Homo sapiens: one gene and its partners. The protein of the gene in region 3 interacts with the protein of the main gene of each other region in a pairwise test. Each region holds a gene or a part of one and is shown on either strand. Other genes may lie near its edges. The genes, in order: FBF1, ARID3A, TTC32 and ZNF219.

Region 1 (9,210 bases), on a different chromosome or scaffold from region 3:
GGTGGCGCATGCTTGTAATCCCAGCTACTGGAGAGGATGAGGCAGGAGAATTGCTTGAACCTGGGAGGCAGAGGTTGCAGTGAGCCGAGATCGCGCCACTGCATTCCAGCCTGGGTGACAGAGCAAGACGCCGTCTCAAAAACAAACAAACAAACAAAACCAAAACAAAAATTAGCCGGGCATGGTGACACATGCCTGTAATCCCAATTACTGGGGAGGCTGAGGCAGAAGAATTGCTTGAAACTGGGAGGCAGAGGTTGCAGTGACCTGAGATCACGCCATTGCACTCTACCCCGGGCAACAGAGCAAGACTCCGTCTTAAAAAAAAAAACAAAAAAACACAACTATCTGAAAGGATGATGGTGCAGATTTTCAGCAGAACCTATATTCTACCTGCCTACCATGACACACTGGCCAAAGATCAGTCTTCCAGACCCTGAACACAGCCCAGTGCAGCTCGCTGGGAAGAGTGCCCAAGATTTCTAGGCACATGGAGGCTACTTTCAGACAAGTAGGCTCCTTGTACCCTTCCATCTAAGACCCCCCAGAACTGGTCTGGATGTCCTCATCAATGGCCACTTTCTGATGGAGGCATGTGGGGGAACCTAAGTATGAATATCGAATTCGTTTCCCCACACCAGCTTTCCCACCCTGAATCCCAACCACATATTTCTGGATACAGAGCCCAAGGAGGAGGATTTTTTCCAAAACCTCATATCTTATTTACGTCTGAACTTCTCTGAGGACCAGTGAGGCAACATAAGGAAGACCAAGGCTGCCTACGGAATAATGGGAAGAACAGCAAGACTGATCAAAAACATTTTTTTTTTTTTTGAGACGGAGTCTCACTCTGTTGCCCAGGCTGGAGTGCAGTGGTGAGATCTCGGCTCACTGCAAGCTCCGCCTCCTGTGTTCACACCATTCTCCTGCCTCAGCCTCCCGAGTAGCTGGGACTACAGGCACCCGCCACCACGCCCGGCTAATTTTTTGTATTTTTAGCAGAGACGGGGTTTCATCGTGTTAGCCAGGATGGTCTCGATCTCCTGACCTCATGATCCACCCACCTCGGCCTCCCAAAGCGCTGGGATTACAGGTGTGAGCCACCGTGCCCGGCCCAAAAACATTTAAATAAACACATCTCATTGTTCCAGGACCAAAGGGGAAAAAGATATATATTTGGCTTAAGAGTAATGTTCCATCTCTCCACTCACCTTTACATCCTTTCTTGGTTTTTGGTGCCTAAAATGGGAAAAACAAATCACATCAAGAAAACCAAACAGTGAACACAGGTGGAAATTGGCAATGCAGAATGAATTGCGTTGCCTTTTGCCAAGTAACCAGAGGCAAGAGCACCAATGGCATTTAGAGATGTAAGTCCTTTATGTGTTCCTATAGTTTCTGAGAACGGACTCATTCAGAGCGTGGAAACAGCCCTGCTAACCAGCGATGGGTGCCAATGGGCGGGCAGGTCACTCCTTTCCCAGACACGACATGCAAACCCTCCCAGCCGAGATGTCATGTGACCGGAAATGTCTTCTATTCCGTGCCCCTGACTCCTCAATACCAGTGACAGACACTTAAAAACGCTTCCAGCTGGACACTCAGAGTCTCAGAAGAAACCTTGGTCGTCGAAAGTTTGGTATCAATGCCACCTCCTGTCACTCTTCTCCAGGGTCTCCATCCTGGTCCTTGCCGCCCAGCCCCCAGAGTGTTGCATGCAGTCAAGATCTTTGGGGATGCAGGATGGGAGGCATGTTCGCTTTCCATGCATCTTACTCTGAACTCTGCCTACCATCTCACGGCTCTCGGGGGTGCTCTCAGCTCCTTCACAGCACTGGCCAGCTCATCTGGATTCTGCCCACATCAGGCTCATACTCCCTAATGAAGAAAATTAAAGTGGTTGCTTAAAAATGATGTAGCTTTGGCTGGGCGCCATGGCTCACGCCTGTTAATCCCAGCACTTTCAGAGGCCAAGGCGGGGGGATCACCTGAGGTCAGGAATTCAAGACCAGCCTGGCCAACATGGTGAAACCCTGTCTCTACTAAAAACAAAAATTAGCTGGGTGTGGTGGTGTACATCTGTAATCCCGCAGCAGGAGGCTGAGGCAAGAGACTCGTTTGAACCGGGGAGGTGGAAGCTGCAGTGAGCCAAGACCGCGCCACTGCACTCCAACCTAGGCAACAGAGTGAGACTCCATCTCAAAAAAAAAAAAAAAAAAAAAAGAGACCGGGCGCGATGGCTCATGCCTGTAATCCCAAAACTCTTTGGGAGGCCGAGGCAGGTGGACTACCTGAGGTCAGGGGTTCGTGACCAGCTTGGCCAACATGGTAAAACCCCACCTCTACTAAAAAATACAAAAAATTAGCTGGGTGTGGTGGCAGGCACCTGTAATCCCAGCTACTTGGCAGGCTGAGGCAGGAGAATCGCTTGAACCCGCTAGACGGAGGTTGCAGTGAGCTGAGATCATGCTATGCATTCTAGCCTGGGCAACAGAGCAAGACTCCATCTCAAAAAAAAAAAAAGATGTAGGTTTAACAGCATGAATCCAAGGGTTATCAAAGTTCTCTCACTTTGCCCATTCAAGAGGTAAAGCCCATTTCCATAAATTAAAAATTCCTTATAGGGGATGCACTTCAGAAGAGGAGCAAAGTACTCTCAGGCTGGGCGCGGTGGCTCACACCTGTTATCCCAGCACTTTGGGAGGCTGAGGTGGGCAGATCATTTGAGGTCAGGAGTTCAAGACCAGCCTGACCAACATGGTGAAACCCCATTTCTACTAAAAATACAAAAATTAGCTGGGCATGGTGGCATATGCCTGTAATCTCAGCTACTCAGGAGGCTGAGGCAGGAGACTAGGTTGAACCTAGGAGGAGAAGGTTGCAGTGAGCCGAGATCGCCCCACTGCACTCCAGCCTGGGCAACATGCGAGACTCTGTCTCCAAAAAAAAAAAAAAAAAAAAAACGTGCTCTGGATAACTTAATGGGCTTTCTGAGGCTTTGAGATTACTTGAAAAAAGGGCAGTGGCCATCATCCCTTACCCTGAAAGCCGATGCAGCAAGTGGCAAGTACTCATTTCAGAAAGGAGGTGGGTGCCTGGCACCAAGGCTGAAACCCTTTCCCAGGCAACACCCATGACTACTTTCTAGGCAGCATTTAGCACAAAAGCAGGTATGAACTCTGGTTACTCTTTGATATTCTTTTTCTTTTTAAAATTTTTTTTTTCGAGACGGGGTCTCACTGTGTTACTCAGGTTGGTATTGAACTCTGGGGCTCAAGCAATCCTCCTGCGTTGGTCTTCCAAAGTGCTGGGATTACAGGTGTGAGCCACCACGTCCAGCAACACGATTTTCACTGACAGTGGAAATATTTCCCTTTACATAGGCAGTAAATCTGACCCATTGAGAACATTTTCCTCGGAATTAGCTGTCTCCCTCCCCCTCCTCCACTTTACCAAAACCCACCTACAGGATGTCCTGGAAGAAAGGAGTCAGAGGGGTCCTCTTTATGTCCCAAGTATTGGCCTGTCCTGTTATTGGAATGCAAGGGTTATCTGGGCTTACCTACAGAGCCCACCCTGAATACATGTGTTTTCTTTTTTTTCTTTTTTTAGACGGAGTCTTGCTCTGTTGCCCAGGATGGAGTGCAGTGGTGCGATCTTGGCTCACCACAACCTCAGCCTCCCGGGTTCAAGCGAATCTCCTGCCTCAGCCTCCCGAGTAGCTGGGAATACAGGCACATGCCACCATGCCCGGTTAATTTTTGTATTTTTAGTAGAGACGGGGTTTCACTGTTGGCCAGGAGGTCTCGAACTCCTGACCTCGTGATCTGCCCGTCTCGGCCTCCCAAAGTGCTAGGATTACAGGTGTGAGCCACCACGCCTGGCCTTCTTTCTTTTTTTTTTTTCCAGACAGGGTCTCGCTCTGTTGCCCAGGCTGGAGTGCAGTGGCACGATCACAGCTCTCATAGCTTACTGCAGCCTCGACCTCCTTGGGCTCAGGCGATCCTCCAATGTCAGCCTCCCTAGCAGCTGGGACCACAGGCACACGCCACCATGTGCGGCAAATTTTAAAATTTTTTTTGTAGAGACGGGGGTCTCCCTATGTTGCCCAGGGTCGTCCCAGACGCCTGGCCTCAAGTGATCCTCCCGCCTTGGCCTCCCAAAGTGTCGGGATTACAGGCGTGAGCCACCGTGCCCGGCCTTGTTTCTTTTTCTCTGCAATGGCGACTTCACGACCTACAAGTCCAAATGTGTCCCATAACACATCAAGGAACTTCTGGCATCTCCTATCGATCCTGTACGGGCTTCTCAGACTATGGGGATTTTCTAGGCTTGGTTTGCCAAGGCCAAAGGGCTACAGAGTAACCCCGTCCCCACATGTATTCAGCCGACTCCATGCCAGGCGTTTTACAGATCCCGAGACCACCCCTAAGCAAGACCCCTAGCCGGAGTCGCCCCTCCGTCCCGAGACTCCGCGCCCCTCAATGCGTCACCCTTCTGAGCGCCCGGCCTATCTGGCCCCGGAGCGCAGCCTGTAACGCTCTCAGCCCCGGAAGCCTCCTGTTACGCGCCGTGCCCCCGGAGGTGCGGCCGCTGGGACCAGCGCCGGCCCTGGCTCCATTCGGGTCGCCCAGCCCGGCCAGGACTGGCCTCCCGCTTCCAGCCGCTGCCGGCACCCTCAGCCGTCTGGCCTCCCGCGGAAAGGCGGGCGCGAGGCATCCTGGGAGTCGCAGTCGGCGGTCGACTCACCCGCCCTCACAGAGGAGGTGGGGACGCCATGAAGAACTACAGCTCCCAGGGAGCCGCGCGCGGCAGTTGGCGGGGCCGGGCTTCTGCCGGCGGCGGGCACGTTGCTAGGAGCTGCCCCAACGCCTCTCCGGGAAGAGGGCGCCAGGCTCAAAGGCCCTCTTGGGAACTGCCGGGAAGCTTAAAAGTTCCTCCTGCCCACTTCTGAGGGCTGACACGTGGCCGACGCGGAGGCGTGAGAAATGTGTTGATATTGGGAGGTTGACGGGTGAATCCACAAATTCACCGGTGTTTATTCCACACCCCAAAGCTTGAGGGAAGTGACTGACCTGTTTAATGATCCAATCAAAGCTGTATAGCCAGAATGAAACCCAATACTGTCGCCCCACAAAAAGATTAAGTCACATTTTTTCTAGTATGTGCTAATTATGAATTTTATTAAGGTTTATTCAATGTCACAGAGGAAAGAACGGTTTGTAGTTTTGCTTACCCGCAGTGCTGGCAGGTCACAGCTGTCCAACCATGATCCATTCACATGCTCTGGCCCCGTGCCCCTCGTCCTCCCACCCCTACCCCACAGGACACCATTAAGCCAGGGCTGGGTAACAACATATGCTCAATGCATCTTCTCAGGTGAGAACCAAACTCGAGCCACAACAGCAAAGGGGGAAAAAGGTAGCAAAGTAATTATGTGCTCCCAAGGCAGTCATTTAGTTGAATCCATAACTGGAAATAAAAAGGCATTTATGAAGTGTAGTCCGCAGTCTGAATGTGGAAGGTGGAAGATCACACATTTACTAAGAAACACTCAAAACATATTTTGGTTCAGAATTCTAAAAAATCCCGAATTTTCCATGATCTTCCCAAGACAACCAATGACCCACTTAAATTTAAGGCAAAAACACCCTTGAATCTAGGAATGTGCACATATGCAACAGCTAACATCTGGTAACTCTAATAATGTTCCTTATATGTTTCTGTGTTTACTATCATGAACCATAGGAAGAAGTACTGGAAAATTTAGTAAGTGTGGACAGTTAAAAACACTGGCCCGGCACGGTGGCTCACGCCTGTAATCCCAGCACTTTGGGAGGCCGAGGTGGGTGGATCACGAGGTCAGGAGTTCAAGACCAGCCTGGCCAACTTGGTGAAACCCCTGTCTCTACTAAAAATACAAAAAAACTAGACAGGCATGGTGGCAGGCGCTGTAATCCCAGCTTCTCAGGAGGCTGAGGCAGAGAATTGCTTGAACCCGGGAGGCAGAGGTTGCAGTGAGCCAAGATTTCGCCACTGCACTCTACCCTGGGTGAAAGAGCAAGACAACGTCTCAAAAAAAAAAAAAAAAAAAAAAGCAAAACCCCACCATCAATATTTTAAAATAAAAAGTCGTTTTAGTCAATTACAGTGTGACTTGTTCTAATCCTCCAAGAATGGAGTAGTAAAGAAACAGCAGAAATGACTTCCCTGCATTATTTCATGAAAATGATCAAAACCTTTATCTAAGTCAGAACATCAACAAGACTCTTGGTCTCAGGTCATCAGTTTCCTGGCACTCCTCCTCTCTCTAGCTGTAGTAGCAGCTACTGCTTGAAGACAACCTATATATCCCAGGCATACCCTCTACACGTATAAAAAGATGTGCAGGTGTTACAGACCACCTACACCTAATTCACTTCCTTTCTAATAAGATGGATGGAATAACTCGGAAAAGGGAAAGGAGGGATTTTGAGCCGCAGTTGTCTAAAGAATTATTGATTCACAGGGATCTCCAAGATCATGCATTTGAAGAGTTTTATTTCTCCACCCAAAGCCCTGCAGTGAAGAAAATCCAAGAATTAAGATGTAACATGTTGGCTGGGTGAGGTGGCTTGTGGCTTATGCCTGTAATCCCAGCACTTTGGGAAGTGTGGGGGGAGTGGGAGTGCAGATCACCTGGCCAACATGGTGAAACTCCATCTCTGCTCAAAATACAAAAATTAGCCGAGCGTGATGGCAGGTGCCTGTAATCCCAGCTACTCAGGAGGCTGAGGTGGGAGAATCGCTCGAACCCGGGAGGTGAAGATTGCAGTGAAGTCGAGATCGCACCATTGCATTCCCGCCTGGGAGACTCCATCTCAAAAAAAAAAAAAAAAAAATTAACATGTTGGCCCAGTGCAGTAGCTCACTCCTGTAATCCCAACCCTTTGGGAGGCCTGAGGTGGGAGGGTCACCTGAGGCTAGGAGTTCATGACGGGCCCAAGGCAACATAGCCATACCCTATTTCCAAAAATAAAAAAAAATAAAAAATTAGCCAGGTGTGGTGGTGTGCACCAGTAATCCCAGCTTCTCAGAGGAGGCCAAAGCAGGAGGATCACTTGAGCCCAGGAGTTGGTGGCCAAAGTGTGCTACAATCACACCACTGCATTCCAGCCTGGGTGAGAGTGAGACCCTCATGGGGTGGAAAAAAAAGATCTAACATGTTAACTTTAGGAACTATAAAATGCCTTCAGGTGTATGTGATCTGAAATTACAAGTGGTGACTTCTCAGAAAGCATATGAACACGGTGAATGTTGTAATGTTCTGAAGATAAGCTGATACTTAGTAGTGATATGTTCTAAAGACAAGAACATGAGGGCCCCAAAGCCTGTGTCATCAACTCTGCTTTGAGGTCACTAATTTTTAAATACAGAGCATAAAGTAGAACTCCAAACACTTGGGCAAGAAGAAAATCCATTGCAAATAGCCAACACATTTCTATTAAACCTCACATTTTCAATTTTGTATTTGGTTGAGAGTACTTTTTAAAAAAAGGCTTAAATCAATATTATCTAACACACACAAAAAATCTCATTAATTCTCCTCACTCTGGGCCAGATGCTGTGGCTCACACCTATAATCTCAGCACTTTGGGAGGCTGAGGCGAAATGATCGCTTGAGCCCAGGAGTCTGAGACCAGCCTGGGCAACATGGCAAAACCCCGTCTCTACAGAAAAAATAGAACAAATTAGCTGGGCATGGTGGCACGTGCCTGTCGTCCCAGCTACTCAGGAGACTGAGGAGGGAGGACCATTTGAACCCGGGAGGCAGAGGTCACAGTAAGCCAAGATCCCACCACTGCACTCCAGTCTGGGTGACAGTGATACCCTGTCTCAAAAAGATAAAAATAAAATTCCTACTCAGTAATTTTGGAGAAGACAAGGTTAAAATGTATCTTTGTACTTGTGAAAATGGCTTACAAAATTTTGAATCCAACAGACCCAAACTTGTCAGTGGCAGTCTAGTGTGGTAGAGAGAACAAACTGGACTTGCCACTTCCTTTAAGGTACAGCCAACAAATGTGTACCAAGTACTTCCAAGGACTCCTAAAGTGACTGGAGCCACTCACAACTATTGGTACAACTGCAGTAATTACAGCTGATTTACAGCTGTCCACTCAGGCAGGTATCACTCCTTCCTTTTTTGTTCTTAGTGTTCCCTAAATCTAATAAACCTCTATTCTAAATTTCTTCATAATTTAAACCTATGTTTAGTTGTGTGGCATATTTTTTCTCTCTTAATAGTACAAATCAGTGACGTTTACTCTATCTTTATTCTTGATTATATTGAATAAAGTTCAAGACAGAACATTCCAATATTAATAAAAATAGCATCAAATGTCAGATTTAGATTTTTTTTTTGAGACGGAGTCTCGCTCAGCCACCCAGGCTGCAGTGTAGTGGCACCATCTTGGCTCACTGCAACCTCTACCCGCCAAGTTCAAGCGATTATCCTGCCTCAGCCTCCCGAGTAGCTGGGACTACAGGCGCGTGCTACCACCATGCCCAGCTAATTTTTGTATTTTTTTCAGTAGAGACGGGGTTTCACCATGTTGGCCAGGATGGTCTCAAACTCCTGACCTCAGGTGATCCACCCGCTTCGGCCTCCCAAAGTGCTTGGATTACAGGCGTGAGCCACCACGCCTGGCCCCAGATTTAGATTTTAAATAAAACGTGAGGTACTGGGTCAAAGGGGGCTCTGCAGGTCGATGATCTCCTCAAACCTGCAAAGACATCCCATCTATGCAACTGGATTGGGGGGTGTCATTCCAAACACCCTCAGATCCTGCCCAGATATTCATCTGTGAACAAGGTATTTCAACACTAATTTTGAAACAATTCTACATCTAGCAGGTCAGTTTATCATTTTCCAGAATCTGAACTACTGTCAGGATAGACTCAAGTGAGATTAACACAGGGTTAATCTTCAATCTTAACACAATTATCAATTAGTTCTCCCAGTGGAACGATTAAGGCTTTTGTCAACATGTAGCATTTCTGCTGTAACCTATAAGTCTCATATTACCAGTTCCCCAGGATAGATAGATATTATGTCAGGTCCCAAGATAGGAGTTATGTTTCCATGGAATTAAGCCATATTCTCAGGACTGATTCTAGAACAGCTGGTTTCATGAGGCATATGGCGTAGATTAAAAAAAAACAAAACAA
Region 2 (8,688 bases), on a different chromosome or scaffold from region 3:
GTGCTGGGATTGCAGACGTGAGCCACTGCACCCACCCTATCCTTCTTATTTTTTCGAGACAGGGTCTCGCTCTGTCACCAAGCTGGAGTGTGGTGGCGCGATCACGGCTCACTGCAGCCTTGTCCTCCTGGGCTCAAGGGATCCTCCCACCTCAGGGTCCCAAGTAGCTGGGACTACAGGTGTGCGCCACCACACTCAGCTAATTTTTGTAGAGATGGGGTCTTGCTATACCGCCCAGGCTGGTGTAGAACTCCTGGGCTCAGGCTATCTGCCCATCTCGGCCTCCCACAGTGCCGGGATCACAGGTGTGAGCCACTGTGCCTGGCCCCAATCGTACAATTAAAACAGTGAATTGTATGGCATATGAAGTATAGCCCAATAAAGCTGTTTTTTAAGATTCATCTCAAATTCATTCAACACTTATTAGAATTGTTGAGACTAAAGGTTCAAATCCTTAAGCAGCTGAAGATCTGTGATTAACCGCCTGTGCGTGTAAAATCCCATCACGGGCCGGGCGCGGTGGCTCACGCCTTTAATCCCAGCGCTTTGGGAGGCCGAGGCAGGCGGATCACAAGGTCAGGAGATCGAGACCATCCTGGCTAACACGGTGAAACCTTGTCTCTACTAAAAATACAAAAAATTAGCCGGGCGCGGTGGCGGATGCCTGTAGTCCCAGCTACTCGGGAGGCTGAGGCAGGAGAATGGCGTGAACCCGGGAGGTAGAGCTTGCAGTGAGCCGCGATCGCGCCACTGTACTCCAGCCTGGGCGACAGAGCGAGACTCCGTCTCAAAAAATAAATAAACAAATATATAAATAAAATCCTACCATGGTGGGGTGCGGTGGCTCACGCCTGTAATCCCAGCACTTTGGGAGGCCAAGGAGGGCAGATCACCTGAGCCCAGGAGTTCTAGACCAGCCTGGGCAACATAGCAAGACCCCGTCTCTACAAAAATTAGCTGAGTTTGGTGGCGCCCGTCTGTACTCGCAGCTACTCAGGAGGCTGAGGCAGAAGGATCGCTTGAACCCAGGAGATCGAGGCTGCAGTGAGTTAGGACAGCACCACTACACTCCAGCCTACCCGACAGAGTAAGACCCTGCCTCAAAAATAATAATAATCCAATAAAATCCTACCGTGGCCGCTTTCTAGAAGCTGGGCCTGCTGTGTGGGTGACAGGAGGCCACCAGGAGGCTACGTCAGACATCAGGAGGCTGAGATCCTAATCACTGCCCGACACGTGCTGGCCTCCAAAACTGCACGTCCCCAGGCCCCAGGCAGCAAGGTTCCAGGTGTCCAAGGAAAGAACCCGTGGCCCTGAGCCTGCTGCGCCCGGCCCCCCGCCGCGGCCTGGCCACCCACCAGACCTGCAGCCGACAGCAGAATTTCACAGCTGTCGAGGATTTGCAGGCGGAAGTTAGCCCCGAGCCCTGCCAGGACCTGGGAGGAAGAGGCAGAGACGGTGCCAAGCGGCCGGCCAGCGGGCCAGGCCTGCCACGTGCCAGGAAGGGGGTGGGGCAGGCGCCAGAGTCAACAGGGGCCCCAGTAGGGGCCGGGCGGGAGGTAACACTGACTGGGCTGGTTGGGCCCAGGCCACTGTTGACACTGGGAACACAGGTGTCTGGCCAGCTGGGCGGGCGGCGGCATCGGCGGCTGGACCTGCCACGAACAGCCCAGGATAAGATCCCAGGACTGGCTGGGCACCGTGGCTCAGGCCTGTAATCCCAGCACTTTGGGAAGCTGAGTGAGGCAGATCACTTGAGCCCAGGAGTTTGAGACCAACCTGGGCAACACCGTGAAAGCCCTTCTCTAGAGAAAAAAAAGTCACAGGACTGCAGGGCGGGGGCCTCCCCCCACCCCCGCTGCCCACGACCATCCCTAGGCCCTCATCTTCTCGGAGTTCCAATCCCGTCTCCCGCAAGACCCAGAGGCGGCACCCGGTCCCTACACACAAGCCGAGCTTTAGTCCACCTCAGGGCCTCTGCACTGCCCGGTACACCCAGGGGGCAGGTGCGGGGCGGCAGGATCTCCAGGAATACCTGAGGCTGCCGGTGACACAGTGACCCCCCTCCCTGCACTGGCCTCAGTTTCCCCATCTCGGCTTCCCGCTGCAGAAAAACCCCACATGGCACCTACAACCCTGACCCGCGGTGTCGCCCAGACAAGGTAGACAGTGGCTTCTGCCTCCTGCCTTCGCTCAGGACATGCTGCGGGCTGTGGGGTCAGGGCGCCTGGCCCCTCATCCCTGCCTGGTCTGGGCCAGTCACCCCAAAACTCCCCCATCGGCTTTGGGCCTTGGAGGCCGGGGCTGTCTGGGCGGGGCGTGTGTCCAGGGTCAGGGGGTCCCATTCACCTCTGACCCCCGAAGGACCGACTGAATGGGGGGCCTTGACCCTCCCTCTCGGCTTGGCTATAACCCTGCGGGGATGGAGGTCTCCGTCCGGCTCCTGCCCGCCCCTCCAGCCCAGGGCTCCCTGCGGGCTGAGTCCCGGGCAGATGGCGAATATTGGGTGAATGTTAAATTAATTGGTGAATTAAATTAATGAAATTAAAGAGAATCCACTCTCAGCATGCTCATCCGTATCATCTTAAACCCAGAAAAGATCACAAGACCCCTCCTCCCAACACTGAGCCTCTGTTTTCTCACTGGCAGAATGGGACGCGCGGCAGTGTGGCCCGTGGAGCATCCCCTTCTGCAGGAGTGGGAAACTGAGTCACAGAGCAGGGTGGAATCAGCGAGACGCCCCCCCCCCCCACCGAGTCCCCGCCGCTGCCCTGGCCATTCTCCCACACCGTGTCCGGCTTTCAGCTCTTTACTATTTGTGAGTTTCCAGGCAGCCCAACCTTAAGTCTCTTGAGGGCTGCTGGGGTTAGGGCCGCCCCTTAAGCTACCCGGCACCCCTGGAGTCAGGAGCCCCGGGGAGGCCCCCCTGGGTGTCTGTGCCTTGGCCCCTCCTAGGAGGCTCCTCAGAGCGGATTCTGGAAGCCCAGGGCCGAAGGGGCTGCCCCGAGGCAGGCATGTCCCAGCGTGTCCATCATCCACCTCCCTGCGGGAGCCCAGACCAGCTCCAGCCCCGGGCGAGGAGGTGGCTCCCCCCAGCCGCGCCCAGAGGTCGAGGCAGAGCCCAGCTGGACGAGGGCTGGAATGTGAGCCTGGCCACCATCTGGTTTCCATCTGCCCGGCCCAGCACGGCCCAACTTCAAAGCATCCCCCGCCCGGCCACTTCCTCTGGCCTGGCCGCCTGCGGGGAAAGGCTGGGGCGGCCCCTACTTCCTCCTTCAGCCTGGGGTCCCTGAGACCCCCTGCCGGCCCCAGCCTTAACCGCCCACTCGGAGCCTCACAGGCCCTGGCTCCTGCGTCTCCTGCAGCCACACCTGAGCCACCCCCACATCCCCTCGGCTGCCAGCTGCAGCCCGCAACCCCCCACGGCTCTCCACAGATGCCAGGGGACAGAGGAGGCCAAGTCACCACGTCACCAAGGCCCCGGCCTCTCTGCCCGCATCGCCCGCAGGCCTGGTTCCTCCAACCCAAGCCCAGCTCGGGCCGGCGCCAGCCTCTCCCTCCCAGGCCCACCTTTCCATCTCTGCCCCATCACCTCCGATATGGGGGCCGTGGAGCCCCCCAGGTTTCTCCTACCCGGCCGGGTGCTCCTCACACATCCCACATCAGAGCAATGAACAGCCAGCTGGTCGAGCCCACGCCCAGGAGGGAAGCACAGGAAGCACAGCTACCGCAGGAACCCCCAGCTCTCAACTCGACGCCCGGCTCAGCACACACCCCGTGCAACGTGGGCCTTCAAAGGGCCCCACTGGCCCAGGAGCAGGTGCCTCAGCCGCCACGCGGGACGCGCCCACTCACCTGCTTAAACTGCTCCTCGTAAGTCCAGTCGCCGTGGTCAGGCGGCTGCAGCTGCGGGGCTACGTGGGCGGCCCCTCCGGGGTGGGCAGGGCCAGGCCCCGGCCGCTCCTGGCCCCCCAGCACCCTGGGAACGCCATCGCCGCGGAAGGCCTGGGGTGGCTGGGCCTTTCGGGGGAACAGTGCCGTGGTGCCCAAGCTGGCAGGGCCTGGGGGGCCCAGCCCCTCCTCGTCCTCCTCCTCCTCCTCATCCTCGTAATCCTCCTCCTCCTCCTCCTCATCCTCCCCGAGGTCTTCCTCCATCTCCTCCTCCTCCCATTTGGGCTTCCTGGGGTGAGCAGAGGGCAGGAGTCAGGGGAGAAGGTGCTGGCTCGTCCCAGCCCAAGGAAAGACCCACTCCCCGCCCAGCCTCAGTTTCCCTCTCTGGAAATAGGAAGAGCCGGCCGCCGCCAGCTCAGACTGCAGAGAGCGCTCATGAGCACAGCGTGGGGCACCCGTGACGCCCACTTTGTTTCCAATTAGCCCAGAACAGCACAAGCCGTCCCTACAGCGTGAATTTTGGGGCCTTGAAAAGCATCACGCAGGCAGCCACGGTGGCGCACACCTATAATCCCGGCAGCACTCTGGGAGGCCAAGGCGGGAGGATCCCTTGAGCCCAGGAGATGGAGGCTGTAGTGAGCTATGATGGCACCACTGCACTCCAGCCTGGGCCACAGAGCAAGACTCTCTTGGGAAAAAAAAAAAGGGAATCATTACGGCAGGCTGGTTCCTGCATCCTGCACCATGCATGCTGTCCCAGCTCCACCTCCCCTTCCCTCCACAGGGAGAATTCTCCCACCGCCATCTGAAATCCGCCCCACCCTCGCCACTGCCCCTCCACGGCACCCTCCTAGACTTTCTTGGCAGCCGTTTTTTTTTTTTTGTCTTTTTTTTGAGAGGGAGTCTCGCTCTGTCGTCCAGGCTGGAGTGCAACGGCGCAATCTCGGCTCACTGCAAGCTCCGCCTCCCGGGTTCATGCCATTCTCCTGCCTCAGCCTCCCAAGTAGCTGGGACTACAGGCGCCCGCCACCACGCCTGGCTAATTTTTTTGTATTTTTAGTGGAGACGGGGTTTCACCGTGTGAGCCAGGATGGTCTCGATCTCCTGACCTCGTGATCCGCCCACCTCGGCCTCCCAAAGTGCTGGGATTACAGGCGTGAGCCACCACGCCCAGCCATTGGCAGCTGTTTGTACAACCTGATATCACCTGCTTCTTTGCTGCTAGGTTTTGTTTGGTTGTTTTTTTTTTTTTTTTGAGACACAGTCTCACTTTGTTGCCCAGGCTGGAGTGCAAAGGCACGATCTCGGCTCACTGCAACCTCTGCCTCCCAGGTTCAAGCGATTCTCCTCCTCAGCCTCCTGAGTAGCTGGGATTACAGGCATGAGCCACTGCACCCGGCCAGTTTTGTTTTTTGAGACAGGGTCTTCTCTGTTGCCCAGGCTGGAGTGCAGTGGTGTGATCACAGCTCAGTGCAGTCTTGACCTCCTGAGCTCAAGCAGTCCTTCCGCCTCGGCCTCTCGAGTAGCTGGGACCACAGATGCATGCCACAACACCCGACTAATTTTTGTACTTTTTGTAGAAATGGGGCCTCACTAGGTTGCCCAGGCTGGTCTTGAACTCCTGGGCTCAAGCAATCCTCCCACCTCGGCCTCCCAAAGTGCTGGGATTACAGGCGTGAGCCACTGCGCCCAGCATCTTTGCTTGCTCAGGTCCTCCCAGGAAGATGCGGGTTCCTGGAGGCCAGGATCCCACAGCAAGTGAGCCCTCAGCCAGCCCTGGGGGGACCCACACGCTATGCAGGTCCAGCCGGCTGCAGATTTTATCTGCCCCTGCCGCTGAATCTGCTGTAGCCATCGGTGGCTAGGTTGCTTTAAGTTAACTAAGATGAAACAAAGTTGGCCGGGTGTGGTGGCTCACGCCTGTAATCCCAGCACTTTGGGAGGCCAAGGCAGGCAGATCATGAGGTCAGGAGATCGAGACCATCTTGGCTAACATGGTGAAACCCCGTCTCTACTAAAAATACAAAAAGTTAGCCAGGCGTGGTGGCGGGCGCCTGTAGTCCCAACTACTCGGGAGGCTGAGGCAGGAGAATGGTGTGAACCCGGGAGGAGGAGGTTGCAGTGAGCTGAGATCACGCCACTGCACTCCAGCCTGGGCGAAAAGAGCAAGACTCTGTCTAAAAAAAAAAAAAAAACCCACATTCTTGGCTCACTGCAATCTTCACCTCCCAGGTTCAAGCCATTCTCCTGCCTCAGCCTCCCGAGTAGCTGGGTTTACAGGCTTCTGCCACCACGCCTGGCTAATTTTTGTATTTTTAGTAGAGATGGGGTTTCGCCATGTTGGCCGGGCTGGTCTTGAGCTCCTGACCTCAGGTGATCCACCCACCTCGACCTCCCAAAGTGCTGGGATTACGGGCGTAAGCCACAGCACCCGGCTAAAAAAACCATTTTTCTTTTGAGACTGGGTCTATCTCTGTCATCCAGGCTGGAGTGCAGTGGCACAATCACAACTCAACTTCTGTTCTCAAGGGATCCTCCTGCCTCAGCCTCCCCAGTAGCTGGGACCACAGGTGCACCACCATGCCTGGCTAATTTTTTAATTTTTTGCGGAGATGGGGTCTTGCTATGTTGCCCAGGCTGGTCTCCAACCCCTGGGCCCACGTGATCCTCCCACGTCGGCCTCTCAAACTGCTGGAATTACAGGAAGGAGATCCCGCGACCTGACCCTTACTCCCATTCTGCAGATGAGCAGAGTGACACTCAGAGCCAGTAACAGCCCCCAGAAGGCCCTGCCCCAGACCCCAACTCACATGTCCTCGTCGGAGGCCATGTCCTCAAAGTGCTCCTCTCCTGGCCCTTCTCTGCCTCGCCCGGGTGAGCCCGGTGTCCCCTCCCGGGCCGCGTCCTCCTCCTCCGAGCCTGGGGGCCCATCCTCAGAGCCGCCGGGGCTGGCTGGGTGTCCCAGGCCCGCAGCTGCAGCCCGCATGGCTGCCAGTGCGGCCATCTGAGCCCGCTGCATCCGGGCACTCTCGGGCTCTCTGTCCTCGTCGGGGGCAGCCCGGGCCCGGCCGGGGGGTGCAGCAGGGGGATCGGGGGGCAGCTGCTGCCGGGCCTCCAGCTCCTGGCGCGCCCGCTGCTGCCGCTGCAACAGCGTCTCCATCACGGCCTGTAGTTTCATGGCCCTGCGGCCCGGGCCACCACCACCACCACCACCACCACCACCACGGGCGCTAGGGGTGGGCGGCGGGGGCGGCCCCTGCGGGGAGGGGGCCCGGCCGCACTGCAGCGTGGGGGCCGCGGGGGAGCCGGGGCAGTGCAGGGTGGCAGGGGGCGGGGGCGGGGGCCGCCGGGCTCAAGCTGAAGGCTGATGGGGCATGCCTCTTCCTCACGCTGGGCTCCAGGGGACAGAGGCTGGCATCCGGCTCATTCACGCATTTGCAGAAACCTGAGGGGGAAAAAAGGCACAGTCAGAGCAGGCCTGAGCTCCTCAAGCCCCCTCCTTCCTTCCCCATGAAGGCCCTGGGGATCAGCTCTCATGTCCATCTCATGCAGGATGCAGACCTGGAGGCCTTCTTGGAGGCAGAGGCGCAGGCTCTTCGCATACAGCCTACTGTGGGCCTGGGTAGCAAGGTCGCCCCGCACGGGGCCACAGAGAAACACGCTGTGGCCAGACTGTCTGCCCCAGGAGATCTTGGATTATTGCTTCACAAGCAGGGTGGGGGAATGGGCGTTCCTGGCCTGTGATTGGCCAGCGGGCTCCGGGCCCCAGTCAGGTGGGTTCTAAGTTCCAGTCGCTGCCTGAGTCCCTGTTGGAGCGGCCCAGCCTGGCCTCCAGGTATCTAGGTATCCTCCCATCTCAGGCCAGACTGGAGATTGAGCGCCTGTTGTATACGGGCCCTGGGCTAACCCTCCCCCCATCACACAACTCAACAGCAACGCCCAAGCCACAACTTCTCTGGACCTCAGGTTCCCTACCTGCAAAACAGTGTGGGTAACAGTACCCCCCCAACCCATGGCACTCAAGGAGGGATGAATCGAGTTCAGGAGGTTAAGGTGGGCACCAACAGGTGTCAGAGAAGGGGGCACCAGGGCGGTCCCATTTCATGGTTGAGGACAACTGAGGCTCAGGGATCCTCTGCTTGGAGACATGGCGGTGGGATTTGAACCCAGGTCTGGGTGACCACAGAGCCTCCCACGCAGACCCCACAATCTCTGCAGGGCAACAGGGGTCTGGAGTTTCCCGGTCCTCTGGGATCCCGAGTGGGCCAGATGTCTCGGACGGCAACACACTCACCCAGCCTAGAGTGCCTTCCACCCAGGGCCAGTCCTAATGGCCTGGGTGAAGAACAGAGACTCCTGGGGCCTGGGTCCCACCCGAGCCACCCCCTAGCCCAGGCCACACCTCCACCCGCCCAGGCCGCCAATAAAACAGGCCGGGCAGAACCCAACAGGCCTGGAGTGACACCCCAGAGGGAAGGCACATCATGGGGACAGCGGAGGGGGCAAAGCTCCACCCTCCCGAGAGGCAGCTGGGCCCAGGAGGCCACCCCCAACCCTTACCCTGGCAAAGGAGCCCCCAAGACTCATACACAGCTCCTGGGCAGACAAGGCCTGGAGAGACGAGGAGGCAGGGACCCCTGGGACTCAGATCCCTCCTGTGACCCGACCCCACCCAGGTCAGTGTTGCACAGCAGACACCCCCAAGCCTCCCCAGTCACCGGACAAGAGAGTCCTGTGGCCCCTCTGCCCTAGACACCCTTTACCCAGACCCCTGAGTCTTTCGGCCCCATGGGTGAA
Region 3 (4,541 bases):
GAATAATTCCAGAAACAGAGACTTTGTTTCTAGGCCATGAAACTTAATTTCCTCTTAATATTCACTTACCTACAGCCCAAACTCTCCATGTATTTTGCCAGATATTACTTATGAGCTACAAACAGGGCAATTACTTTTTCTGCTTCATGAGATTACTCATACACACACAAAAAAAGCATTTTAAGGCTGCTGCTGCTGATTGCATCTGAGGCCACAGAAGTTACCCTGCGCCTTCCTCTGAAGACACAAAGCAAACTTTCCTTTCTCCTGATTCGGGTAATTTCCACCACAGAACAGCTTTTCCATAGCAGTAATAAACTAGTTTGGGAATCTTTGGAAGCCAAACAACAATAAAATACAAAAAATGTAGATGGCATATGGCTGGTGTTAGTCTGTTTTCCCTTCAAGTTCTTCCCGGTTTTTGATAGCTTCATAAGGGCCTAATTGTTGGCAGCACCAAAATAAAAGATTTTTAAACTTTATACTTACTAAGTGCTTTTTGTCATTTCCTCACCTCTCTATACATTCCTACCTGATCACCAAATTATTATGGAGATTTGAACAGTGCTTGGCTTATAGTATTCAGTAAATGTTGATAACAATTGTCATTATCCAGAGACAGAAAATATGTTCAATATTTAAATCTTAACCTATTTTTATCAATGATTACTTGAGAAAATCAAGTGTAATTCAAGCTGAACTCTTTCAAATTGTAGGACATGTTTATTTTTAAGCCTAAATGTTATGTCTCTCTAGCCTAGCTATATAAAATAGCCTTTCTCTCAAAGCCAATGCTAGGGCAAGAAAATGGACAGGGGACTAGATTAAAAGAACTGAGAGAAACATAAAAAAAAAAAATGCAATTGAAACCTGATTGGCTCTAGATCCAAATAAAAATCTACACACTTTGGAATATGGGCTGGATATGGCTGACATTACAGAATTATTCATTTTATTAGGTATTATAATGGTATTGTGGTTATAAAGGAGGATGTCCTCAATCTTAGAAAATGTAGGCTGAAATATTTAGGGGCGAAGTACTGTGACCTCGTCACCTTATTTTCAAATGTTTCAGCAAAAAGTTATATATTTAAATAGAAAAAGCAAATGTGGCACAATATTAACAACTCATGAATTTAACTGAAGAGTTTATTATACTTTCAACTTTTCTGCAGATGTAACATTTTTTAAATAAAAAGTTGAGAATAAAAAAATCACAAAAATAGTTTTGCTGAAGAAAATACCACACATTCCTTTTTACTATAATATTTAATATAATAATATACACTTATACATTGGTATTATTTACACTTCATTAAAAAAAACCCATTCAACCTGAAATTAACTACCTTAAACACACTATTTAACTTTCAGTGCTAATGTATTAATTTCTTAAATATAAATCAAAATAGCTCAATATCTAAATTACTGATAACTAGATGCAGATGTAAGGATCATGAATCAATACTTCCATTAAGTTAAAAATATCAATAATTTTTTGCAACATTTCTTCTTTGTTTTTCTTCTTTGTCTAGAATAGTCTGTTTTAAGCTCAAAGTAGCATCTTGAAATCCAGGATTTAAGTCTAAGACCTTCTTGAAATCTTCCAAAGCATCATCAAAATATCCTGTACCAGAACCCAAAAAATGGAAAAGAGAAAAGAAACCGAGTATTTCTATATATTATTCATGGAAAAGCTTTGATACATGTACTTTTGCTTTTATATTTATGAGCTTTCAGTCACTTCTAGTAAAGGAATCTTTTTATCTTAATAATATAGAGATGTGTATATCAAAGTAATTTTGTGTGCCCTTAGGGAATAATACACCTAAAATTAGCTATGGGTTTATTTATTGAGATTTAACAGGTAAATATTATCAATCATCTTAAAATTTTAATAAAACTGTATCACCTGTTTTACATAATTGCAGTAAAATTAAGAAACGGGAACTAATTTTCTTTTTGACACTTTAAATGAAGAAACACTACCTATGGTCCCTTTAATCCAAGAATCTAAACTTCACTTTCTATTGTCTTGTGTGTCTTCAAAGATTTTAACTCAGAAAAGTTTCACAGGTGAACATCTGAATTGCCCTCATTTCACAGCTGGGAATGCACAAGCACAAAGTAATGGGGTCACCCCTGCTCCTGCGCCCAGGTCCAATTCCCACCCCAGTGCTCTGCTGTGATCTATAACGCCTATCAAAAGCCTAAAATAAACTCAGGGACACTTCCTTTGTTCCAAGCTCTAAACCTAAATTTCACAGAACTTTAAAATTTGATTACCACGTTAGTTTTACAACATTTGAAAGCTCTGAAATAACAGAATACAGTCAATGACAAAACTCAAAAAGAAAAAAAATTCTTACCCAGCCTATACAGTATCAACCCTCTGTTGTAATATGGAACTTCAAAATTGGGTTGGACTTCTATGGCAGATGTGTAGTCATCCATGGCTTCATAAAAATCAACCCTGAAGTACTTGATTTGCCCCCTGTTGTTATATGCAGTAGCCAAATCCTCAGGGCTGCATTTGCTTTAAACAAAAAGTTCACATTAAAAACACCGTGTTACCAAATTCCTCTCATTTCCACTTTCATTCTCTTTTGGGTATTGTCAAACTTCACAGCCTATAACATGCAGCATCAACACTGAAAATCCAAGCTGAAGAAAAAACGTACAAATAAAGAGCTAAAATCAATTTTTGTTTAACCCTGTTATCTACTTTTGTAGGGTTATACCACTGCAATGTCAACCTGAAAAGCATACTAACTTTACAGTGTGTTCACTGCCAATTTGTTCTGCTGAATATAACATTAAAATGATTGTTCATTTTTCTAAGCACACACCAGCAGGGCAAAGAAGACAGAACAGATAAATACTAAGCAAAGAGGGAAAGCCAGCCCAAAGCCCGAGTTTGCTATGGATATGTCACAATGTGAATCAATTTCATTCTCAAATTTTTAAGTGATCTTAAAACAATAAGATTTGAAATCATTTTCCACCAATAAAAAACTAAAGTTAACGCTAAGTGAAAATTCAACATGCTACGATCCCCAGGAAGTTATCTCTGGGGACAGAGTTGCCCTCCCTCCAGCCTCAGCTGGCATCCTCCCCAATGCCAGGCTGGCTTCCTGCTAGGAGGGTGGGCTCCTTTAGACCCCCTCAGGGCTCCAGTCAATTTTGATGTCCTTTGTGCAGAACTGGCTCTGCACCTGAGGGAACTAGAGGTTGCCCAAAGAGCTTTAAATTAGCAGCCATTCCTGGGCTGTACAGCCAGGTAGCTCTGACCAGCCACCAGCTCAACAGGTCACAGCCCCTGGCTGCCTTGAACCTTTCTCTGCACAGGACAAATAGTCTGCACAGAGAACATTAGTGCCTCTGCTCTGAGTCAGGGATGATTCTGTTTCCCTTTCTTTTTTCCCAAAGCAATTCTCAAATTAGAACCAAACAGAGAATTCATCTGTCACTTCTTTGTAATACCCCGTAGTAAAAAGTATAGTCCTCCGAAAGTATCTGTGAAGGCAGTTAGTGTAAATAAAAGCTACTTCTCTTAATATCTTGATCCTTGAGATTTCAGACAGGGACTGTAACTACTGCTACCCTAAGAGGCACTCACAGCCCAAGGGCCTCCTTCAAACCAAGTTTGCTAACGATGGAGAGGAACTGTCGCAATTTTAGAAAACGTCTATTCTATGAGCTGTGATGGAGACTGGATGTAGGGATACTTCTGGATGCCACTAAGCACCCCCGTTAAAACCTAGATTACAAGACGGTACCACTCCCCTTCACCTATGTGTGACATGACACTAGTTGAACTGCTCCCAGTAGAGAGTTTAAAGAAAAAAGCAATCTCAGGATGCCAGTAAGGTTTTAGTCATTAAATCGAAGTTTCAAAATTATTGTTATAAGTTTTTAATACTAATTATATATTCGTAATATAGAGAATCATAAAATGTTAGACTTAGAATTAGATCTCATTAAATCAAATTCTAAAATCGTTTTCATGTGGAAATTTTGTTTCATATTTTAAAGAAATGGACTAACAGTTGAAGCCGAAATTTTCTGTAATATTAAAATTTTTGTAATGATAGTATTTATTATAATGGAATTCATTCAAGTTACCTAACCCAAATGTGAATTTTTAGGATTTGCTAACTTTCGCAAAAAAAAATATTTTTTATATATATATAAAGTGTGTGTATATATATTTTTTATATATAAAGTGTGTGTATATATATACACACACACTTTGGAAATTAGGTTTATGACTAAAGCTATACTTTAGATATTAAAAGAAAACGTCACAAACCATTCAGAATGAAAGGCATTCAAAAATTGCAAATATTGTTTCAAAATGATTTAGTGACCCAATACTTAGAAAATAAATGTAAGCTCCAAAAGATAAATTGAAGGGAAAAAGTTGAAATGACAGAATTCAGTTTCAATCCTTGAGTTCCTAGAATTTTATCAAAAGCTTATTTTACAGATGAAAAACTGAGGCTGAGACATTAGCCATGTGGCAGTGCCAAGACTGGAAT
Region 4 (8,516 bases), on a different chromosome or scaffold from region 3:
GGGGAAGGAGAAGATCATTGAGAGGAAGAGGATAGGGGTTGGGGGGGGGGGCGGGTGCTGATCCTAAGCTGCAGAGGAGTTTAGCATGAGGACTTAGAAGAAACCCCAGAATCAAGATTCATGGAAACAGACCTGGGAGGATGACCAGAAGTCATCTAGTCTACCTTTCTGCCTCATATAGAATAGTATCTGGTCAAGGCTAAATGAATGTGGGTCTAACCTTTTTTTTTTTTTTTTTTTGTCTAAGAAAGGATATTTGAGATATAAAGAACTTCCTTACAATAGGCATCACAAAACTGAAATGGGTTACTGAGAAAGAAAAAGATGCAAGCATTACTTTGCCTAAGGATCTTTAATAGAAAAGAACTGTGCCAGGAGTCAACCTGCCTGTCAGCAGAGAGAAAAGGCTCTGGAGGTCCAAGGCTTCTTTAATTTTTGACATTTAGTGGATGTGGTAAAACTCCATGAAGGGGCAGGTACCTGTTACATGTGGAATCTGGGCTATAGGATTATTATTAGCAGATGATTAATTAACAAAGTGTCCTTGTCCAAGGGTCACTAGACGACCTCCACTACCACTTAATATGTGTATTTCTGTAGCTTCAAATTAGGGCACCCACTCTCATCCTCTGGATCCTTTCCTGGGACTAAGAGCCTAGCCAGGCTTACTGAATAGTGTCACAAAAGGTGAATTAGAATAGGACTGAAGGGTACAAGGCTATTGTAGGCCTAGTCTGAACATTGATAACCCTACAACCTTTACTAAATCACTTAACCTCCCAGTTTACTCATCAGTAAAATAAGGGGATTGGACTAATTTATAGTGTTAGTCCCTTCCTGCTCGAAAAAAGTTTGTGATTCTAAGTCACAGGACTCTTTTGGACCCCAGAGAGATGTTAAAACAAATGGTCATCCCTTCAGTACCATGGAGAGTGCAGTGGGCTACCACAGAAGCCACTTGGGCCACCTCAGTACCATAGATAGAGCTATGAGGTGCTAGAGGGGCTGTTTGCCATTTTAGCATCGCAGATACAACACAGAAAAGCTAGAGCATTTTTTTTTCGTTCCTATCTGAAAACCATAGAAAAAAACCCAGTGGTACCAGAGGGATTATTTTGGCCTTTTAGATGTCACTGAAAATAGAAAGAGCTAATAGAAAATAGATGTAACTAGAAGAATTTTAATTAGCTATAAGGAGCATCCTGACAGTTACAGTTTGTACATCCTGGAATGAGTTACTGAGGCATCATATTTGGGTCCATCACATTCTGTTGCTCTCCTGGGGATTCCCGGAACATCCTGGTGTACAGCCAATCTGGTATATTCAGAGGAAGCAGATGGTGGAGGCGTGGGGCGGGGGGGCTGGGAATACTGCATGGTCATAGCTGACTAACCTATGGGCACATACTCTCATTCTGAGAAGATTCTAGGGCCCCTAAAACTGTCTGTAGGATAGCAAGCAAAATCTCTTAGGAAGCTGGCCTCATATCTGAGGCAAGAAGAGTCAGAAAAGGGCAAAGCTTCCTATCCCAAAACAAAACAACAATAAACCACTTTGCACATAGCAGTTTCCAGAACAGAAATAGAGTGATATACAAGAAGGCCCAAACTGAAGCTGAATTCCCCAGCACGGAAAGTTTCCCCAGAAGGTGGCCTAAAATCAACAAAACTCACTGAGATACCTTCTTAGGCCCAATGAAGATCTGAATCATCTCCATATCAAACCAGGTTCCAGACACCTGATCCCATGATTTTTTTCTCAGTAGGGGAAAGAACTGACAGGGACTGGGATACTATGAACTGCCTTGGAACCGAGGTCATGCATATATTGCCCCTGGACAATAATCACAGAGTTTTCTATAGTCAGGCCTTAAACACCATCCTCGAGACTTGGCCAGACAGCAGCACTGACCTACTTTCCACCCCCACTGGGAATCAGGGGTTATCTTGCCCTTATTTGGATTCTATAAGGATGCGGGGCCAGGGATAGATATCAGAAACCTTTCAAAAGCAGTAGGCCAATTATCCTTACATGCTGGGGCAGCTGGTAGGGAAGTGGGTGTGGACCACTAAACCTTACTCAGTAGAGAAGGATGGAATGGTTGGTGAAAAGACTTAGAAACAACAAGGACAGGTACATAGAAGTATTTGCTAAATGGACCACAAAGACTGTCCCTCAAGTCTTGTGATTCAAAAGTTTTTAGGGTCAAAGTGTAAGGAGCAAGGGTTCAGGACTTCTGGGGTCCAGTTGTAACTGCCTCTGGTCACCTCTAACACGATGGTTTTCCCTCTTGAGAATCCTAGACCTCCCAAATCTGCTAACAATTATGATTACCACTGCACTAGATGGGGTTAAAAGGAAAGGGAGCTTCTAGGGCGGTCTACGTTCAAAAGACTACCTTGATCACACAGACACACCAGTAGTTCACTTTTATGGTCTCCTCTCCATGGCCCTCTGAACCTCACTGCTCAGATAGCTCCTCCTAACCCGCTCCACTCTGCAGCTCACCAGCCTTTTTAGACTGAGATCTTGGTAAAGCCTCCTTCCCTCTGTCCTCACTCTCCTGAGTTAGGGACATGGAACCTCAGCCATGGACTTCAAAGGTACAGCAGGAGGCGAGAGGAAGGCACACCTGCTCACCTGCTGCCATCCCACCATGGGGAATCTTATCCCAGAGGCATGTCCTAACGCAACCCCGATTTTGATTTTGAAAGTTCTGGAAGACCTGGGTTTGGGAAAGAGGGGCATGTAGCCAGCCCTAAGTCCCTTTAAGTGGAGCTGACCCTAGAAAAGTCAGTCTTAGCACCCACGTGAGCCTCGGTCCTCAGACTGGGAGGTAGGGGCGATCAAGGGAGCCTCTGGGAAAATCCCCCTCCCAGAAATAGATTGCTAAGTAGGGTAGGACCTGCTATCCTGCCGGAGAGGTTTTTCCAGCAGCACCCCAGACCCCTCCCCAGGAAGATAAGCCAGAAGGATGATGGGGGGCAGGGTTGGGAGATAGGGAGGCCAAGGCTCAGCTACCCCCGGCCAGGAGAACAAAAGCTGAGTTACAGCCGCCTCCGCTGCTGCCGCGGGCCGAGCTCTTTGTGACACTTTGTTTGGGACGCAAAGAGGGAAGCACCCCCCATCCTTTCCCCTCCCCCGCCACCCCGTGCTTCCAGAGAGTTTGGGCTCCTTCCCCCTCCCCCACCAGCCCTACCTGGGCCGGGGGTTGGGGGGTGCACATCCACTCAGGCTCGCGGCTCTGCCGCCCCTCACCCCCAGGTCCCTCGCGCCCTGCCTTCGGGCCCCTACAAAGACACCCGCCACCTCCCCCGCCACATCCCCCCCGTTGGCCCTTCCCTTTGGTGTCTGCTCCCCCAGCTCTTCCACCTGGCCCCCCCTCCCTTGGGGCCCCCCAGCTCTCCAGGCTTCCGAGGCCGCCACCCCCACCCCGCCCCCCCAGGAGCTCTGGGCGAAGTTTGCTTGGGGCCGAGCCGGCGCCCCTCCCCCGCCCCCGCCCCCTGCACCTGCTCCGAGCCGGGCGCGCTGAGCGGGCCCCCCCTCCGGGAGGGGGGAGGGGGCCGGGGGCGGGGGCCGGGTGGCGGACGGGGGGGCCCGGGAGTCGGGGGAGCGGCTACTCACGAGCCCCGGGCGGGCGGCGGCGGAGCGGGCGGCGGCGGCGGCGGCGGCGGCGGGCGGCGGGCCGGCGGCGCGGGCGTCAGCGTTACGTGGGGCCGGGGGAGATGCGCCGGGCCCCGGCCCCCCCGCCCCCGGCCCGGCCCCCGCCCCCTCCCCGGTCCCCCGCCCCCGGCCCTGGCCCGCATTGTGTGCGGCGGGAGGCGGCCCGGCCATTAGCATGCGGGGGGCGGCGCGGCGGGGCTGGGAGCCGCGCGGGAGCCGGGCTCTGGCTCCGGGGACAGGGAGCTGGGGACCCCGGGAGCCGCGAGAGGCGGCCGCCAGGGGCGGGGTGCGGGCGGTTTGGAGACGGGGGGCGCTGTCGGAGGGAGGGAGGAAGGGAGGGAGCGGGGGTGGGGCGCACAGAGGATTCCAACAGGAGACTGGAAGAGATTTTGAAAGGTCATCTCGTCCTTCCCCCAGCCTCCAAGCAGCACTGCCCCTCCCTCCCTAAACCCGGACATACCAGGGAAGGAGTTGGCTCTGCCGCTCTTTCTGCCCCAACATGCACAGACTCGGGAAGTTCTTCCTGGGGTTTTATCTCAAAGCCTCTCCCTTACAATTTCTGTCTCTCTTTTGGGGGAGGAGGAGGGGCGATTATAGAGATAGTTAATGTCGGCCGTATAAGAAACATTATTAAAGTTACTCTTCGGTCCTTTCCGTTCTTGATAAACAATTCCTGCGCCTTCCTCTCGAATTCTATTTTCCATTCCTCAAGTCACTTTAATGGCTCTTCAATACAACAAATATTTACTGAGTGCTTACTAAGTGCCAGGCACTGGGCTCAGCGCTGTGAGGGATGAGAAAGAAGTGGTACCTTCCTTCCAGGCGATTGTAGTCTAGACTACAAACTGGTAAGTAGTATACTCAGATTTAGTCAATATTTACTGAATGCCTGTTCACCTATCTAATAGTATATAATCTTTCCAATAACCCTCTATAATTAAATTAGCCCCCATTTACAAGTAAGAAAAATGAGGCTTCAGGAAGTCTGTTTCCCCAGTGGCCTGCAGGCTCGGGGATCCTCAGTGCAAGCCCAACATCTCACATCGCCACCAAATAAAATCAATGCACGTGGGAATTGAGGAGGAGTAGACACACAGCAGTTTTCTGGATCTCTTTAAAACGTGACTCCCACTCCCCGGGAAAGAAAAGAGTAGATACAATGACCCGCCGATGTTGGCACAGCACTGATGGGGCAGGAGTGGCTTACAAAAGATCACTTGCCTCCCAGGACCCTGCCTCCCTCCTCGTACTAACTTCTAGAGTCTTCTGGCGCAGTCTCCTCTTATCGTCAACAACAAGAAATAATAATAGTGATGATGATCATAGCCACTAACATTGAGCACTTGTGTACCAGGTACTGGGCTAAGCTCTCTTCCATGCTGAAAGCAACCCCTTGAGACTGGTATTATTAACTTCCTTTTATAGATAAGGGAACAGAGAGATTAAGCAACTTGCCAAGGGCACCTAGGTAGATCTGGGATTTGTTTTGATCTATAGAGTATATTTGGGCCCAGCTGGTTCTGCTTCCGACTGTAGAAATGTGTCCCCAGCTTCCTTCTGAATAACACTTTTAGTGTATGGGCATCAGACTTATCGGTGTGACCTCATCAGCACCACTAATAGTTATTAAACACCCACCCTGAATCAACAACTCTTCACAGTCATATTGTTAGCCCCCTTTTATCAGTGAATAAACTGAGGTGCGAATAGGTAGAAAAACATATCTATCAGGACAGACACAGTGGCCCACACCTGTAATCCCAGCAGTTTGGGAGGCCAAGCAGGGAGGATGGCTTGAGCCCAGGAGTTTGAGACCAGCTTAGGCAACATTGTGAGACGACCCTGTCTCTACAAAAAATTTAAAAATTAGCCAGGCATGGTGGCATGTGCCTGTGATCCCAGCTACTTGGGAGACTGAGGCAGGATGATTATTTGTGCCCAGAAGGTGTTGGCTACAGTGAGCCATGATCATGCCACTGCACTCCAGCCTGGGTGACAGTGAGCCCCTGTCTCAATAATATAATAATAATAATAATAATAATGTATCCAAGATCACACAGATGGAGAAGCAGCAGAGCTAAGATTCCAGCTCAGGTCTGTCTGGCTATGAGGCACCTTCTCTCTCAAAAATATTAATTGTTGCAATAGCATCCTTCCCAAGACTCACTATTTGAGGACCATGAGATAGATAGATAGATAGATAGATAATGTCCAGTTGCAGGTTATCATTGAATCAAAAACAATCCCCACCATAAACAGGGTCCCCCCCATCCATTGAGTCAGTGTTCAGTTCAGAGTAAAACCTTCAAGAAAGAAGGAAGGGAGACTGTCCAGAAAGTGAGAGGCAAGAAAGCCCCTGGAATTCAACCTTACCTGGTCTGGGGGCAAAGCTGCAAGTAGTAATGACAGGGGACCAATCCAGACAGAAAGTAGGATCTCTAGGGAAGGGCACATAATTTGAGGAGGAAGCCAAAGAAAGGAGTAAGATCATATGGAAATGAGGGGGAATTGAGGTCCAGAGTGATAGTGTCCATGGGGATGAGGTAAGTGAAACCAGAAAAGGAACCCAGGATGGGCAGAAATGAGGGTAATGAGAAATGGGAACAGAGTGAGGTCGGGCTAGACATCTTGTGGAGTGAACTGAGGCCGGTATCTACCCAGGGCCACTCCCTAGATCCTTAGGCCTTCATAGAAACCTTTGCCCCACCACACCCCATCCCTGACAGCCTTCCTCTGCCAGGACAAGTTTGTCGTCTGCTCTGAGCTATCAAGCCCCTTAGGAGACCTAGGACCCAGCTGGGTCCCATCCCTTTGGAGTAGCTGCTTCAGACTAGGTAGGTGTGAGGACCTGGACCTCAAATCCCTGGATATTGGGAGTGGGCAGAGGTGTAGCTGAAAGATACGTTGTTGCATGTCCTGTCTCCTAATAGACAGAACCTATAACGCATTTTTCCCAGCCTAGGAAGCACCTAATTCTTGTGGGCAAAGGAGCCATGGAAGATAGAGCTGGTGAGCAAGAGCAGGAGAGACACAGCCTTCGTCTGGAAAAGCTACAACACTGGGCAAGGCACAGGCAGAGTGGGCACCTCTTGGTGCTAGCGGTGAGGCCAGGCTACCCCATCCCAGGTCTCAGCATGTCCACTTCTACCCAATTCAATTCCATCCATCCATCCATCCATGTTAAGTGAGCACCTACCATGTGCCAGAAACTGAGCTAGGTTCTGAATGGGAGGAGGGTAGAGGAAAACATAGAAATAAACAAGGCAAGACCCTTAATCTCCCAAGTAGCTTCCATCTTGTGGGGGAAAACATACAGGTAAGTAACTAAACTACAATATGAGGCAGAAAAAATTAAATGATACTTAATTTTTAATGATCACGTCCTTGCTCTGGGTTGACTGCTTTCCTCCACCCTGCATTCAATCCCATTTCCTGATCTCTAAAGAGGTAGGAGTTACGAGAAGGGAGGGAATCCCTGACAGTTCCTCCCCAATTACCCTACCCTTACCCCCAGGTGAGCCAGCTATGGCTGGCAGTGGTTGTGGTGCCCCTTGCTGTCTCAGTCGCCTGCCTGAACTCTGATTGTCACATGGCCACAGCGCTGCCTCTTGGGCCTGGAGCCTCAGTAAGACCCACCACAAGGGAGGGTGGAAGGTCCCAGGGCCCCTTCCTAACGGGACCAGAGCTCAACACTTGCCCTTCTCACCATTCAGGGTCTCCTCACTGGGACTGTCACTCTGGAGCTTCGCAGAGCACCCCGCCTTTGGAAGGTGAGAGGGAAGAAAACGCAGCACTGTCCTCCCACTCCCTAAAACAGACACCTACAACCCTCAGCCTAGGAAGTAAGTGGCTAAGTGTTGACTCATTCTCTCAGCTGTCACCACTGACTGGCCTCAATCACTGAGGAGGAAAGCAAAAAAGTTAAGAGGGCTTATGGCCCTGTTTGGAGGCTGAGAAGCAGAAGCTGAGTTTTGTCTTCAGCTAGGCTGCAAGTGGGGATTGAGGTTGGAATGACTCCCCTAGGCTGGGCAGGGCTGAGCTGGCTCACTGGCAGGTGCGGGCCATGATGATATTCAACACCTTCAACTTGATCTTGGGTTTCATAGTGGTGGTGGTCGAGGTGATGAAGACAGCCTTGGGGCCTGCCCCAACTGCCTCCTCCCAGGTACTGGTCAATGAAGGAGAAGGTGGGAGGATAAGGAGGCAAGAGGAGGTGGGAAGGGAAAAGGGCAGGGGCAAACAGGTGCGGGGTCCCTGCATTCTCAGCCCTGTCTACCTGCAGCATGCTGGCTTGCTGGTGCTGGAACTCAGTGCTGAGGCCTTCACCCTAGGGGGAGTGCTGGTCTCAGTGCACGCCCTATTCTTGCTGAGCCAGAGGAAACCAGGATGCTGCAGGAGCCAGAGTCTGCACTATCAAGAGCTGCAGGAGGTATGGGGGCAGGGAAGAAAGCACGAATAGCTAGCTGCCAACTAATTTTTCCACTGCCTATCCTGGTCAGTGGCACTTAAGGGAAAATAATGGGGCAGGAGAGAAAAGAAGAGGTCCTAGAATGAAACTGATTGGCTTTCTCTGGCTTTGAACATTTCTCCCCTAATGGTGGGTAAGAGGAAACTGGGAATCCAAATGATTGAGGTTAAAAGAGTGGGAAAGCATTAGGAAGCTGCCTAAATATTGGCAGGACTATGGGAAACAGGATAGAAAATTGGGCAGGAGGAAGCAGTTGTTTCTGTCTGGGGTTTCTCCTTTCTCACCTCTACAATTTGCTCACACCTGTCTCTGGTTTTCAGGGCTTCTCTGAGTTGGAAGAGGTTCCTGGTTTGGAGAATGGTCCCACGGTGGCCAGCACAGGAG

The links.
Region 1: the proteins of TTC32 (region 3) and FBF1 interact in binary tests that used the Homo sapiens proteins (3 or more experiments, as listed by UniProt).
Region 2: the proteins of TTC32 (region 3) and ARID3A interact in binary tests that used the Homo sapiens proteins (3 or more experiments, as listed by UniProt).
Region 4: the proteins of TTC32 (region 3) and ZNF219 interact in binary tests that used the Homo sapiens proteins (3 or more experiments, as listed by UniProt).

What each region holds. Positions count from the first base shown.
Region 1 is NC_000017.11:75,936,355-75,945,564, forward strand, and holds the start of FBF1 (fas-binding factor 1), read right to left. Parts: upstream 4,689-9,210; 5' UTR 4,494-4,688; intron 1,879-4,493; 5' UTR 1,796-1,878; coding exon 1,793-1,795; intron 1,240-1,792; coding exon 1,212-1,239; intron 1-1,211. UniProt on the Homo sapiens protein: Keratin-binding protein required for epithelial cell polarization. Involved in apical junction complex (AJC) assembly via its interaction with PARD3. Required for ciliogenesis.
Region 2 is NC_000019.10:927,910-936,597, reverse strand, and holds part of ARID3A (AT-rich interactive domain-containing protein 3A), read right to left. Parts: intron 7,585-8,688; exon of another isoform or gene 7,453-7,584; intron 7,337-7,452; 5' UTR 7,070-7,336; coding exon 6,702-7,069; intron 4,181-6,701; coding exon 3,856-4,180; intron 1-3,855. UniProt on the Homo sapiens protein: Transcription factor which may be involved in the control of cell cycle progression by the RB1/E2F1 pathway and in B-cell differentiation.
Region 3 is NC_000002.12:19,895,500-19,900,040, forward strand, and holds the end of TTC32 (tetratricopeptide repeat protein 32), read right to left. Parts: intron 2,537-4,541; coding exon 2,370-2,536; intron 1,628-2,369; coding exon 1,488-1,627; 3' UTR 1,132-1,487; downstream 1-1,131.
Region 4 is NC_000014.9:21,094,687-21,103,202, forward strand, and holds the start of ZNF219 (zinc finger protein 219), read right to left. Parts: upstream 3,970-8,516; 5' UTR 3,626-3,969; intron 1-3,625. Other genes in the region: TMEM253 (transmembrane protein 253), read left to right, coding at 6,658-6,765, 7,179-7,289, 7,378-7,434, 7,719-7,829, 7,947-8,093, 8,453-8,516. UniProt on the Homo sapiens protein: Transcriptional regulator. Recognizes and binds 2 copies of the core DNA sequence motif 5'-GGGGG-3'. Binds to the HMGN1 promoter and may repress HMGN1 expression. Regulates SNCA expression in primary cortical neurons.